Linked DNA regions of Homo sapiens. The protein of the gene in region 1 purifies or fractionates together with the protein of each later gene. This does not show direct contact. Each region holds a gene or a part of one and is shown on either strand. Other genes may lie near its edges.

The links. Proteins that work in one complex are often made in the same cells at the same time.
Region 2: the proteins of SLC7A11 (region 1) and PDXDC1 purify together in Homo sapiens (affinity purification with mass spectrometry; one large-scale study listed by BioGRID and IntAct). This does not show direct contact.
Region 3: the proteins of SLC7A11 (region 1) and THADA purify together in Homo sapiens (affinity purification with mass spectrometry; one large-scale study listed by BioGRID and IntAct). This does not show direct contact.
Region 4: the proteins of SLC7A11 (region 1) and PPP6R3 purify together in Homo sapiens (affinity purification with mass spectrometry; one large-scale study listed by BioGRID and IntAct). This does not show direct contact.

The regions. Positions count from the first base shown.
Region 1 is NC_000004.12:138,163,123-138,166,857, reverse strand, and holds the end of SLC7A11 (cystine/glutamate transporter), read left to right. Parts: 3' UTR 1-2,761; downstream 2,762-3,735. UniProt on the Homo sapiens protein: Heterodimer with SLC3A2, that functions as an antiporter by mediating the exchange of extracellular anionic L-cystine and intracellular L-glutamate across the cellular plasma membrane.
Region 2 is NC_000016.10:15,034,026-15,036,856, forward strand, and holds part of PDXDC1 (pyridoxal-dependent decarboxylase domain-containing protein 1), read left to right. Parts: intron 1-260; coding exon 261-353; intron 354-431; coding exon 432-528; intron 529-1,423; coding exon 1,424-1,528; intron 1,529-1,925; coding exon of another isoform or gene 1,926-1,990; coding exon 1,991-2,250; 3' UTR 2,251-2,831.
Region 3 is NC_000002.12:43,585,611-43,589,538, reverse strand, and holds part of THADA (tRNA (32-2'-O)-methyltransferase regulator THADA), read left to right. Parts: intron 1-2,536; coding exon 2,537-2,685; intron 2,686-2,804; coding exon 2,805-2,837; intron 2,838-3,089; coding exon 3,090-3,138; intron 3,139-3,928. UniProt on the Homo sapiens protein: Together with methyltransferase FTSJ1, methylates the 2'-O-ribose of nucleotides at position 32 of the anticodon loop of substrate tRNAs.
Region 4 is NC_000011.10:68,572,252-68,576,179, reverse strand, and holds part of PPP6R3 (serine/threonine-protein phosphatase 6 regulatory subunit 3), read right to left. Parts: intron 2,072-3,928; coding exon 1,956-2,071; intron 223-1,955; coding exon 137-222; intron 1-136.

The sequences.
Region 1 (3,735 bases):
CTAGATTTTCTTAGTGTGAATCTACCCATTAGTTTTATTTTCTTGGTAGTTATTTTTTTCCCTCCTCTCTGTTACTATTGGCCTTAAAATACACAGAGGACGGTTACAGTGTCCTAATAGCTGTTACATGTGTGTGTTTCAGCGTACTTGAATCAAGTGTACATTTATAGTACCAATAACCGCCTTTACAGCTTTACAGTTAACAATTCTCTCACAAAACTGTAGAGCATTAGGCATCTGAGAGCCATAGAGGGCCAACTTTGTTCCAGAGTGAACATGCTTTTTTTCCTCAACATATACACTACTGATTTTTTTTAAAAGTATGACTTTCAAGTGAATTAATGTATTGGTTAGGAGAACTGCTTGCTAAGTCCTTATTACCTCTTGTTAAAGCCTCAGAAGGCCGTGCTGAAAGCCAGAGGGGAAAAAAAGAGTAATGCACAGGTATCTCTTTTGCAGTGGTGACTGTATTTTGAGTACCTTGTGTGACAGGGTATTATTACAGCATCTTGTGGGAAAACCTATTAGGCCTTTGCATGTTAAAGCTGTATAATTTGTTGGGTTGTGAGTGGTCTGACTTAAATGTGTATTATAAAATTTAGACATCAAATTTTCCTACTAACTAACTTTATTAGATGCATACTTGGAAGCACAGTCATATCACACTGGGAGGCAATGCAATGTGGTTACCTGGTCCTAGGTTTGAACTGTCTTATTTCAAAAGATTTCTGAATTAATTTTTCCCTAGAATTTCTCCTTCATTCCAAAGTACAAACATACTTTGAAGAATGAAACAGATTGTTCCCATGAATGTATGCTCATACTCGACTAGAAACGATCTATGTTAAATGACTGTGTATATGAATTATTTCAAGTACTACCCCAAATAACTTTCTTATTGCTCTGAAAGAAGAAAAGCAATGTAAATCACTATGATTATTGCACAAACAACCAGAATTCTCCAACAATTTTAAGTAATCTGATCCTCTTCTTGGAGAAAATTGTTACCTAATAGTTTTTCCTTATGAATGTTATTACTACTGGTATAAATCAAATTTCTATAAATTTCCTACTTAAGTCTTAAGAACTGGGTTCTTCCTTTGATGTTATTCATGTTCAGAAAGGAAACAACACTTTACTCTTTTAGGACAATTCCTAGAATCTATAGTAGTATCAGGATATATTTTGCTTTAAAATATATTTTGGTTATTTTGAATACAGACATTGGCTCCAAATTTTCATCTTTGCACAATAGTATGACTTTTCACTAGAACTTCTCAACATTTGGGAACTTTGCAAATATGAGCATCATATGTGTTAAGGCTGTATCATTTAATGCTATGAGATACATTGTTTTCTCCCTATGCCAAACAGGTGAACAAACGTAGTTGTTTTTTACTGATACTAAATGTTGGCTACCTGTGATTTTATAGTATGCACATGTCAGAAAAAGGCAAGACAAATGGCCTCTTGTACTGAATACTTCGGCAAACTTATTGGGTCTTCATTTTCTGACAGACAGGATTTGACTCAATATTTGTAGAGCTTGCGTAGAATGGATTACATGGTAGTGATGCACTGGTAGAAATGGTTTTTAGTTATTGACTCAGAATTCATCTCAGGATGAATCTTTTATGTCTTTTTATTGTAAGCATATCTGAATTTACTTTATAAAGATGGTTTTAGAAAGCTTTGTCTAAAAATTTGGCCTAGGAATGGTAACTTCATTTTCAGTTGCCAAGGGGTAGAAAAATAATATGTGTGTTGTTATGTTTATGTTAACATATTATTAGGTACTATCTATGAATGTATTTAAATATTTTTCATATTCTGTGACAAGCATTTATAATTTGCAACAAGTGGAGTCCATTTAGCCCAGTGGGAAAGTCTTGGAACTCAGGTTACCCTTGAAGGATATGCTGGCAGCCATCTCTTTGATCTGTGCTTAAACTGTAATTTATAGACCAGCTAAATCCCTAACTTGGATCTGGAATGCATTAGTTATGACCTTGTACCATTCCCAGAATTTCAGGGGCATCGTGGGTTTGGTCTAGTGATTGAAAACACAAGAACAGAGAGATCCAGCTGAAAAAGAGTGATCCTCAATATCCTAACTAACTGGTCCTCAACTCAAGCAGAGTTTCTTCACTCTGGCACTGTGATCATGAAACTTAGTAGAGGGGATTGTGTGTATTTTATACAAATTTAATACAATGTCTTACATTGATAAAATTCTTAAAGAGCAAAACTGCATTTTATTTCTGCATCCACATTCCAATCATATTAGAACTAAGATATTTATCTATGAAGATATAAATGGTGCAGAGAGACTTTCATCTGTGGATTGCGTTGTTTCTTAGGGTTCCTAGCACTGATGCCTGCACAAGCATGTGATATGTGAAATAAAATGGATTCTTCTATAGCTAAATGAGTTCCCTCTGGGGAGAGTTCTGGTACTGCAATCACAATGCCAGATGGTGTTTATGGGCTATTTGTGTAAGTAAGTGGTAAGATGCTATGAAGTAAGTGTGTTTGTTTTCATCTTATGGAAACTCTTGATGCATGTGCTTTTGTATGGAATAAATTTTGGTGCAATATGATGTCATTCAACTTTGCATTGAATTGAATTTTGGTTGTATTTATATGTATTATACCTGTCACGCTTCTAGTTGCTTCAACCATTTTATAACCATTTTTGTACATATTTTACTTGAAAATATTTTAAATGGAAATTTAAATAAACATTTGATAGTTTACATAATAAATGTCGTCATGTTTTGCTTTCTTTTTAAGCAGTGTATATTCATTTAAATTGAAGGCCTTAGTTTTAATGATTGATTGAATTTATCTATTACTGATTCCCCAAATTTGTTGGAGCATCCCACTTTACACCAGTTTCCTGTACTAAAAACTGGAAGTGTTGGCAGACCCAGTCTCCTGGAAACACTCTTCTTTTCTTTCTCATGGTCTACATCCATCTGTCCTCTGGTCTGAAATATCTAGCTCCTCTTCTATTTCCACCTGTACAAGTTCAAAATCTTTTCATTTCAGGCCTTTAACAAGAATTTTGTCTTTTATCTCTTTACACTCTCAACTGTTTCCCCAGAATGTTCTTCCTGAAACTCAAATGAGGTCAAAATTTTCAATGGTTTCACATTTATATATATATATATATATATATTTTATTTTGTGGATGGATAAAATTCAAACTCCTCCATGTAACACATAGGGCTTTCCATCACCTGTCACCTTTCTTTCTCCAGCTTTCCACATTCTCGGCAGCCATATTAAATGTGTTCTCAGTGGTTCAATAGCAACAAAATATGATGCCATTATTTCTTTTTACACACTGAATACTCTTACAGGAATTAATTATATTTTCCTCCCCAACTCCCATCTCCTTATTCCACACACAGTTAACTTCTACCCAACATTTAAGTTCAAAAGTAACCTCTTCCAGAAGCCTTCCCCAAGTTGCTTTAAGACCTGACACCTGAACGCATTCATCATCTGGAGCACATCTTTTTTGTAGAACTCATTGAACACTGCTGTAATTGATTTACTGGACTCACTTTTCTGCCTGAATTTGCTGATTTTGTCTTTCGCCAACTGAAGCATAGTAGGTGCTCAATTAATATTTATTAAATGTATAATTTCAGTGCATGCATGAATAAATGACATTCATTAGGTTGCAGGGTTAGCTTTTTTATGATTAGCATAGAAGCAGGTTTTGTT
Region 2 (2,831 bases), on another chromosome or scaffold:
TTCTTTCCAGCCTGACTTTATGACTTCTCTGTTTTCAAGAATACGTAGCAAATGAGGCTGGTCACCAAGGTGTGTCTGCCTAGGCCTCTATGAGCATGTTATCTGCTTGTCTTTGAGTTTCTGTTCGTTTTACGCCGGCTTTTCAATGCAGGATTTCATTGACCTGCTTTTGAAAAATTCCCTCAGTGCTGTGTTACTAGCTCTTCTGGGCCCCAGGTGAGAACCTTAAACAAGTAATGTCTTTCTTGGTCTTGCCACAGCTTCTGGAAAACATGACAGAAGTGGTTCGGAAAGGCATTCAGGAAGCTCAAGTGGAGCTGCAGAAGGCAAGTGAAGAACGGCTTCTGGAAGAGGTGAGGCCCCCGATGGGCAGCAGGCTGGGGGAGCCGCCGTGAGGCCAGGTGGCCCTGAACTCTGGTCCTGTCTTGCAGGGGGTGTTGCGGCAGATCCCTGTAGTGGGCTCCGTGCTGAATTGGTTTTCTCCGGTCCAGGCTTTACAGAAGGGAAGAACTTTTAACTTGACAGCAGGTAGGACGGCATAGCCTCTTCCCAGGTCTTGCTGACCTTGGGAGGTTTCACCAAATGCCCTTGGGTCCCAACACTTCCCACTGAGAATCCCGCCCTGGTTCCCGTTCTTCATCACTGGGTGTGGGCCGGACATCTGAGGAGACAAGTTCTGGTGTGCCCTGTCCTCCTCCCCACCGCACCCTGGCGGCTGAAACAGCAAGGAAGCAGCTACCCACTCTCCACAGCTGTCACCACCGCAAGGCCATGAGGACACGCCCACTCAGCCGTGCAGACTCTCAGGGTGCTGTGTCTTGGGCATTTTGGTTCAGGGTTAATACTTCTTGTCTTCATGTGTGTTCTGCCCCAGCAGAGGACAGCTTTTGCAAGTGGCAATGCAGAGACTGAAGCATGGAGTGCTGGCACGGTTTATTTTGAACCAGGCAGCCAGCAAGCGTTTCAGCCGCTGGAATGTGGGGAGGGTGTTAACAGTCCGTGACTCCTTTCCTGTTCTACCAAGGAAATAATTTCCTACACTCGAGCCCCTTCCTTCATTCTTTCCCAGGAAACGATGACTCCATTGTCATGAAAGCAAAAGATAATCTGATTTCTAATCTGCCAAGCCTTAGCCTTCAGCAAAAAGGCACCCACTTCTTGTGGCTACAGTACGTTTCCCTGTTGGGCCTGGCTCCCTGGGTGTGCTTACGCCATACTGCTGGCGGATGCTGGCGGTACTGGCCCTGTGAGGTGGCTTTCTCTAGCTCACGGCACATTCATAAGTGCCCTTCTCTCCACCAGTCTGTGGCAGGCTCAGTGGCTGGAAGGAGGTTATTGGGGAGCAAGGCTGTGTGAGGGCAGGTGGTGTCTTCAAGGGCAGCCTGTGCCTGTAGCTTCTACCCAGCCCTCTCCTCTCCCGCAGGCTCTCTGGAGTCCACAGAACCCATATATGTCTACAAAGCACAAGGTGCAGGAGTCACGCTGCCTCCAACGCCCTCGGGCAGTCGCACCAAGCAGAGGCTTCCAGGTAAGTGACGCCTCTGCACCGAGTTCAGGTAACAGGTTTCCCCTGTTGACTGTTACTTGCGTTTGTTTTCTGGGTTCTTGAACTCCAGAGGTCTATTTCTCTTAAGACCAACTACTACCATCTCTTTAACCATCTTGGTAGCCGTGGGATTCAGCCTTGAAGAAATCCCACGGTAGTGCGCTAAGGGGAAGTTGGGGTCTTGAAAGATGACATTGTCACTGTGGTGTTTACCCTCCTGGGCGTTTCCTAATGAAGATGACCTTAGAGTTCCCCGGCCTGGGGAGCATGTTGGTGTCAAGCTAGCAGCTCTCGGTTTTCTCATCTCCTAAAACACCTCAGAGCCAGTAAAGGTTTCTGCTGAAGCTGTGTTGTGAAATAAAGCAATTATCTGTTGCAGAGACAGCCTGTGTTGCAGAAGTATCCTCACTGAGTTTCAGCGCAGTCTGTCTGCCCTTTCTGTAGGCCAGAAGCCTTTTAAAAGGTCCCTGCGAGGTTCAGATGCTTTGAGTGAGACCAGCTCAGTCAGTCACATTGAAGACTTAGAAAAGGTGGAGCGCCTATCCAGTGGGCCGGAGCAGATCACCCTCGAGGCCAGCAGCACTGAGGGACACCCAGGGGCTCCCAGCCCTCAGCACACCGACCAGACCGAGGCCTTCCAGAAAGGGGTCCCACACCCAGAAGATGACCACTCACAGGTAGAAGGACCGGAGAGCTTAAGATGAGACTCATTGTGTGGTTTGAGACTGTACTGAGTATTGTTTCAGGGAAGATGAAGTTCTATTGGAAATGTGAACTGTGCCACATACTAATATAAATTACTGTTGTTTGTGCTTCACTGGGATTTTGGCACAAATATGTGCCTGAAAGGTAGGCTTTCTAGGAGGGGAGTCAGCTTGTCTAACTTCATGTACATGTAGAACCACGTTTGCTGTCCTACTACGACTTTTCCCTAAGTTACCATAAACACATTTTATTCACAAAAAACACTTCGAATTTCAAGTGTCTACCAGTAGCACCCTTGCTCTTTCTAAACATAAGCCTAAGTATATGAGGTTGCCCGTGGCAACTTTTTGGTAAAACAGCTTTTCATTAGCACTCTCCAGGTTCTCTGCAACACTTCACAGAGGCGAGACTGGCTGTATCCTTTGCTGTCGGTCTTTAGTACGATCAAGTTGCAATATACAGTGGGACTGCTAGACTTGAAGGAGAGCAGTGATTGTGGGATTGTAAATAAGAGCATCAGAAGCCCTCCCCAGCTACTGCTCTTCGTGGAGACTTAGTAAGGACTGTGTCTACTTGAGCT
Region 3 (3,928 bases), on another chromosome or scaffold:
ATTGCAGTGCAATGATCTCTAGAACCTTGTCATCTGCTAAGCTCTGAAACTGTATACATTAAGTAACAACTCTCCATTTCCTGCTCAGCCCTTGGCAGCCACTTTCCGTTCATAAATTTGATTACTTTAGATACCTCATATTAGTGTAATATTTGTATTTATATTTTTGTGACTGACTTATTTCACTTAACATAATGTCCTTAAGGTTCATCCCTGTTATAGCATATGACAGGATTTTCTTCTCTTATAAGGCTTAATATTCTGTTGTATGCATATACTGCATTTTTTTCATCCATGCATCTTTCAATGGACATTTGGGTTGCTTCCACTGCTTGCCTGTTGTGAATAATGCTGCTATGAACATGGGTGTGCAAATATCTATTTGAGATCCTGCTTTCAGTTCTTTGGATATATACCCAGAAGTGGGATTGCTGGACCATATGGTAATACTATTTGTAATTTTTTGAGCAACTGTCATACTGTTTTCCATATGCAACATTTTACATTCCCACCAGCAGTCCTTACTTTTTCAGCTATAAATATTCTGTAATATGAATATACCAAAATTTAAATGTACCATATATATGACATGTATGTATCTATATATGGTACATATTACATGATTTATATTACATGGTATAAAGTAATTTAATCACTTCCCCATTGCAGTGATATTCTTATGTATATAATTATATATGTGTATTTCTCTGAGATAAATTCCAAGAAGTGGAATTTCTGGACCAAAAATTAGGCCTATTGAAATTCTTGGTAGATATTGTTAAATTGTACTCCCCCAGACTACCCATTGAATTAGAATGCTTGTTTCTTCTTCATATATTTCCAACATTGGATACTATCAATCTTTAAATCTTTTAAAATCTAATGAAGGAAAATGCTATCATTATAATTTGTGTATCCCAGATTACTAGTGTAATTGAACATTTTTTAATGTGTGGAATTTGACTTTTTTTATTACATATTCTTTGTACATTTTCTTGTTAGAATGTTTTCTTGATTTATAAGACTTCTCTATAGATCATATGCCAAATACATTCCTTTGTTACTTGTCTTTAACTTTCTCATGGTGTCTTGTCTTTACAAAAATTAAAATATTATTTTGGTTATCAATTCAGCTAATTTTTGTGTATGTAGATTTCTGAGTTTTATACCTTGCTATATGTGCTTTCTGTAATACAAGATTATTTAAAACATTATTTGCAGGCCTTATACTATTTTTTTTTTTTTTGCTCAACTTTTATGTCCATCTGGAATTAAGCTTTGAATGTAGTGTGAGGTAGGGATTCAATTTAGTTTTCTTTTTTATATGGGGAACCACTTACCCAAACTGTTGAATCGTCCATCTTTGCCCACATATTTGGAATGCCACCTTATTGTGTTATATGTTCACATATATACATGGGTTTGATTTCTGAGTTAGGTCCAATTATTCATACACCAACACCACACTTTTATTTACTATAGTTTGATAAAGTGTTTTAATTATATGTCAGTGTTAAGTCATCCCTCTAGTGACTCTTCTTATTCTGAATATTCCCATTTTTGAATTATTTTCTTCCAGAAAAACTTTGAACTGTCCAGTTATATTTAAAACAAAGCCAATCAGTTTTGATGTATATAAATTGAGGCAAAATTGATATGTTTAATTTACTCATTTGATAAATTTTTATTGACTGCCTACTGTGTTTCAGCACTCTTCTAGGAACTGGGGGTAGAATGAATGAAACAGTCCAGAATGGAGGTTACATTCTAAGGGGAAGATAGAAAATAGACAAAATAAATAAGTAACATTTATAGGATATTAGATGGCATGAGTGCTATCTAAAAGCGGGAAGGAAGGAAAGGGGACATAAAGGATGGGGTGAGGGTTACAATTTAAAATATTATGGTCACTTCATATAGCTTTGCTCAGACATGATAAGGTAATTGAGATTGACCTGAAAGGGATGAGGCAGTGATTGCTGGGTATATTTGAAGGAAGAGTATTTTGGATGGAGGAAACAGCAGAAGCAAAGACTGGTATGTCAGAACAGAGCAAGGCCATGTAGCTAGAGCTAAGTGAACAAAGATCAAGATGAGGTCAGGATTGTGATAGATGCCATTTTAAAAATCAAGAAAAGAAAAAAAATAAATAAAGATGAGGTCAGGAGCTAATGGTAGTGCCAGATTGTATCGGGAGGACCTTGTAGGTCACTGTAAACACTTCAACTAGTACTTTAACCGAGAAGGATATTGTTGGAGGTTTTAGTAAGAGAAGTGACATGGTGTTTTAACGGTGTCACTCTGCCTGTTCTGTTGAGAATAATCTGGGAGATGGGAGAGAAGCAAGGTGGAAGCAGGGAGACCAGATGTGCTGACAAGCCAGGAAATTCGAGTGATGGTAGTGTGTAGTTGTAGTTTTCTGGCTGTATTTTGAAGATTTAGTTCAGTATTCCCACATTTGTATGATTCTCTTCCCTCTCCACATATTCTGGGGCTATTAGATTGTCAGATTTTTAATATTTGTTTCTTTTTCTAGCTCACTAAATAGCCTGCCTGATTTTTTTCTACCTGAGGCTATGCACCGTTTTACTTCTCGTCTTCAGGAAGAATTGAATACTACTGACTTATACTCTTACAGGAAAGTTACTGACAATATTTCTTCCTGTATGGAGAACTTTAACTTGGGTAAGGCTGCACTTTTCTAGTCCTTTTTCTGGCTAACCCCTCTCATCACATCATAGTTTTTAAATGACATTGATTTTGGTCGTGAAACTCCTTACCAGTGTTCATTTTTTCCTCTACAGGTAGAGCAAGTGTTAATAATCTGCTTAAAAATGGTAAGTCCTATTATTTTATTTTGTTCCATGAGTTGATGGCTTGTATGAGTCATTTTGGAACTGGCTCTTTTAAGTTTCTTGGTAATAGGTAGAGCATTGTAGATAACTTAGGTACATCATGACCCTTCCTTTTAAATTTTTGTTTCCATATCATGATATCATTTTGGATAACAGTGATATAAAATATTTTATTTTATTGAAATTGAGCTTCACAGTTTTAAATTCTTATTTGTCATATTCTTTTTGTTTCAGTGCTTCATTTTCTGCAGAAGAGTTTAATTGAAATCCTGGAAGAAAATAGGCAAGTGCTATATGTTGGCATTTGTGTGTGCACACTTGCAGTTGTACATTATCTTTGTACAAAGAAAAATTTAAAAGTCTCAGAATGTGATCTTTTCATCCCTTTTCATTAATATTATCACTTTTATATTTTTTTTGAGATGGGGTCTTGCTGTGTCACCCAGGCTGTAGTGCAGTGGTGTGATCATAGCTCGCTGCAGCCTCAACCTCCTGGGCTCAAGTGTTTGTATCACCTCAGCTTCCCACGTAGCTGGGACTACAGGCATGCACCACCACACCCAGATAGTTTTTTTTATTTTTTTGGAGACAGAGTCTCACTATGTTGCCCAGGCTGGTCTTAAACTACTGGACTGAAGTAATGTGCCCGCTTTAGCCTCCCGAAGTGTTGAGATTACAGGCGTTAGTCACTATGCCCAGCCCCTTTCTCCATTAATATTAGACCCAATTATTTAAAATTTTTTTTAGAGGTTTGATATTTAATTTTAATAAATTCAAAGTTTTTATATTTGAACTTTATTAAAATATTTAAATGAAAAATTAAAAATTTAATAAATTGTTATGAGAATAAGTGAAAGAACTCTTTTCCTCACCTGAGTGTGTTCCTTTTTCATAGCATCCTGTTTTATTTTGTGAGTGAAATATCCTCTGTTACTTCTCTGAGGATATATTCATGATAGTTTTTTTGTTTTTTATCATCTTTACATAGTCTTTGTTTCTTCCAAGTTGCTTTTTTCTGTTTGCTGGTTTTGTTCAGTATATTTCTTATTAGAAGCTTTCCTCAGAAGTCTGGT
Region 4 (3,928 bases), on another chromosome or scaffold:
TCCCTGGTAAAGAGATAAGAATTTATCTTTGGCTCACAGTTACTGAGGTAAATGGAAGATCTTTTACATCTTTCTGAATAAATGGGCAAAGGCTAAGAGCACTGAAAGAATAAAAATGTAACCTTGTAAAACCTACTAGATCTACCGTGTTCCTCTTGTTAGTTTCTCCTAAGGAGCTTGTGCAGAACGTCTCCCATCGTTCCCTGACTTCGTCGGGAAGATCTTCAGAGTGAGAAAAGCAAAAAAGCATTATCACCACAATGACCTCCACGGAGACAAATAAAGTAAGCAGGTAATATAAAAGTGGGCCTACTCACCTGGTTCATCAATGGTGAGCAGGCCCTATCAGCTGAGAAACTGGGTGACAGCCAGCCCAGTGCTCTTAGAGAAATGGAATTATTAAACCTTCCATAGGCCCAAATCCCATGGACTTTCAGGAACCAGAATCCCCCTACCCAATGGTATAGGCTTGATGAGGCCAAGAGCCCTAAGGTAGCTTGTGAACTTAACAAGTTTCTGAAAATGCTCTGGTAGAAGCTTAACCTGGAAAGTGTGTTTCCAACAAGCTTTTCTGAGAAAGGTGGTAGGTGTTTAACGTGTCGGGGGTAGGGGGATCTTTTTCCATGGTCAAGTTAAGTCTAGAAAATGCTGCAAATGACAGCTCCTGCACACTTTCTTGAAATGCTCTCATTGGCAGCTGGCCAATGAATGTTCCACAGAACCTAGTATGGCTTTTCAAATTGCTCTAAGATCATGTTTCCTAAATATTTGTGTCATGGGCCAACGTGGATACACAGGTAATAGTGAAATTCTACCTTCTAGAGAAATGTTAAAGAAAAGGATAAACAACTGCTTTTCTGAGAAAATCAAACCATGACGTAATTTTAGAGGCCTAACTAGTCATCTGATAATTCTGGTTTAAAACAGCCATGCATGTGTGCACACTCACAGAAGTGTACACATGTACCACCTGGCAAGCAGCTTCCATAAAGGAAAGTCTGATCTAAAAACTCAGTCATATCACATGGCCATTTCTTCTTAGTTAGGACATAAAGATAAACTGTGTGGTGAAATGGCCCAAGGAAGAGGCTTATACCTCTTATGCCTCTCTCAAGAAGCAAAATTAGAAGTGGGCACACACCACTTTTTCCATCCCTGGTGACAACTGTGGTTTTAGTGCACATTCAACAGGGAATAGCCTCTTGAACAAACAAACATTCTTAAGAAAAAATGGAAGACCCACTGGGAAATGATTTTAACTGAACAAATTCTGTACCATGGATGTTAAAGACTGTTCACATTCAGAATAGGTCTCAGGATTGGTAATCCTGTTGGTACAAAAACCCAGAGTACACAGTTCTCTCATTTTAGAAGAAGGCTCATGGCTTGGGGCCAGTGTAAAAAAGCATCCATATAGTTTCTTCCAAATAAGCTTGGGCTGATTAAACTGAAATGCTATACAGAAAGAGTCCTTTAGAAGCCAATACCCCTCATTTTAGTGACAGCGACATCAAAGAAATGCTGATAAATGCCCTAATATTCCAGTTAAAGAAACTTAATTCAGAGGCTATATAGAGGCCTTCAGAAAATAAAAGGCAAAATTATAGCTGAAGTGGCTCAACTGCTAGCATATGAGTACTTCACACTCACAATACTCAAAAGCATGATTCACCAAGCAATGCTCTTTAAGAATGACAATAGGTGACTCTTATATGCTGAATCCAGCCAAGCCTGCCAATGCTTATGGAATGGTCTGTAACTACATGAACATAAATACAACCAAAAAACAACACTGTTCAAACACATTCTCAAGAACCTCATTCAAATACATAATTTGCCAAATATAAAGAAGTCCCACAAATCACTATTAAAAATGCTACATGCATTTCTACTTGACCCTTAAATCCTTCCTGCAACCCAACAAAAATGTAATTCAAATTTCACAAATAACTTACCTTTGATAAGCTGCTGCACTAATGCACTGTTGGGGCCCTTGTCAGTGCTGTGCACGATACAGTTAGCTATCCTCGTTAGGTGTCCCATGTAACCATGCCGTCTTCCTCCCTCAGCCCTGACAAGAGGTAAAGGACAAATACTCAGATTCCTGATAGGATGAAGTGATGAAACACTCGGTAAATACTGCGGACTTTTAAACAATCATTTTAAACCCTGAAGGCACTGAAGAAAATGACGATGGACAGAAAAGAAAAGAAAAACAAAGGAATGGAAGGTGCCAGAATATGACCATGCAGCATGGTCAGGGAGGGGTGTGAAATTGTAAAAGATTATATGGCAGCCTCAGTCAACAGGCCACAGTTTATTCGAATCTCAAAAATCATCACTCACTGTCAATAACACATTATTTTTTAAAAGATCAAATAAACCTTCTCTGATGCCTAATGTTATTGTGATTTTATTTTACATCTTTTTAATGAAACTTTTTCAAACCTTAATCAGATTATAAGGAACTGAGGTAAGAATTCTGCTGGTTCATTTTCTTAAAAGATAGCAAATTTTTATTATATCAATGAATAGAAATAATTATCTACCAATGACATGTCTCAAGTTAAGATATTAGCTGATGTGAGACTTGGCCAAGATAGGAGACAGTCAACTAGTACTTGACCATACACCATTCTGAACACATGCAAACAAACAGTCTTTGTCCTTTTCCCATTTAAGGTCTCATCTTCCCAACCATGATCAATCTTTACACTTAATTCGTATCAGGCCAGGCACAGTGGCTCACGCCTGTAATCCCAACACTTTGGGAGGCCAACACAGGTGGATCACTTGAGGTCAGGAGTTTGAGACCATCCTGGGCAACATGGCAAAACCCCATCTCTACTAAAAATACAAAAATTAGCCAGGCGTGGTGGTGCACACTTGAAATCCTAGCTACTCAGGAGGCTGAGGCAGGAAAATTTCTTGAACCCGGTAGGCAGAGACTGCAGTGAGCCAGGATTGTGCTACTGCACTCCAACCTGGGTGACAAAATAAGACTCCGTCTCAAAAAAAAAAAAATTATATATATATATATATATATATATATATATATATATATAAAATAAGTAAACTCATATTAATCTGATTTCTCTACCTATTTACAAAGTGCCAAGATTTTAAGCTCTATCAAACGAAAGATTTTTGACTGCAGATAGCAGGGAACAAACACTGCAGAGATTTTTGCTTAGAGAGAGAAAAGCCTTTCAGGAGCAATAAGAAAAAAAAAACATCCTATGCTTGAAGGCTTGCTTGGAAAATAAAGTATCTGCTAGAGAATCTTAGAGGGCTTGGGGGTGCCTAAGGGTAAGAAGTACAGGGTTGATTATTTAGGTAGAGACAAGGTCTTGCTTGTCATCCAGGCTGGAGTGCAGTGGTGCAATCACAGCTCATTGCAGCTTCAAACTCCTGGGCTCAGGCAATTCTCTCACTTCGGCCTCTTGAGTAGCTGGGACTATAGGCAAGTACCACCACATCCGGCTAATTTTTTGTAGAGCCAGGATCTCCCTATGTTGTCCAGACTGGTCTCGAACCCCTGGCCTCAACCAATCCTCCCATCTCAGCCTCCCAAAGCAGTGGGATTACAGGCATCTCCCACCGTGCCTGGCCAGAGTCAATCTTCACTGAGTTGCTCAGAGTCTCTTTTAGTTCTTCAGTAAGATCCAGAGAGCCAGGTGTTACCTACAGGCAACTGAGTCACTCTTCTGCACACCCTCAAGTACACAAGTGAAAGAAAACAAAGGCCCATCTCTAAGGTGACCCACAGCTTCAAACTGCTTCAGGCTGTTGTGCAAGGAAACAAGGAAAGTTCTTTCGGGATCCCCCTAGACAGAGGGAATGGTATTCACCAGGCCTCCAGAAAACGGGACTCACCAGGAGAGCAGGGCACAAAGGATATCTGAGCCCTGGCCAGATGAGGAGGCAG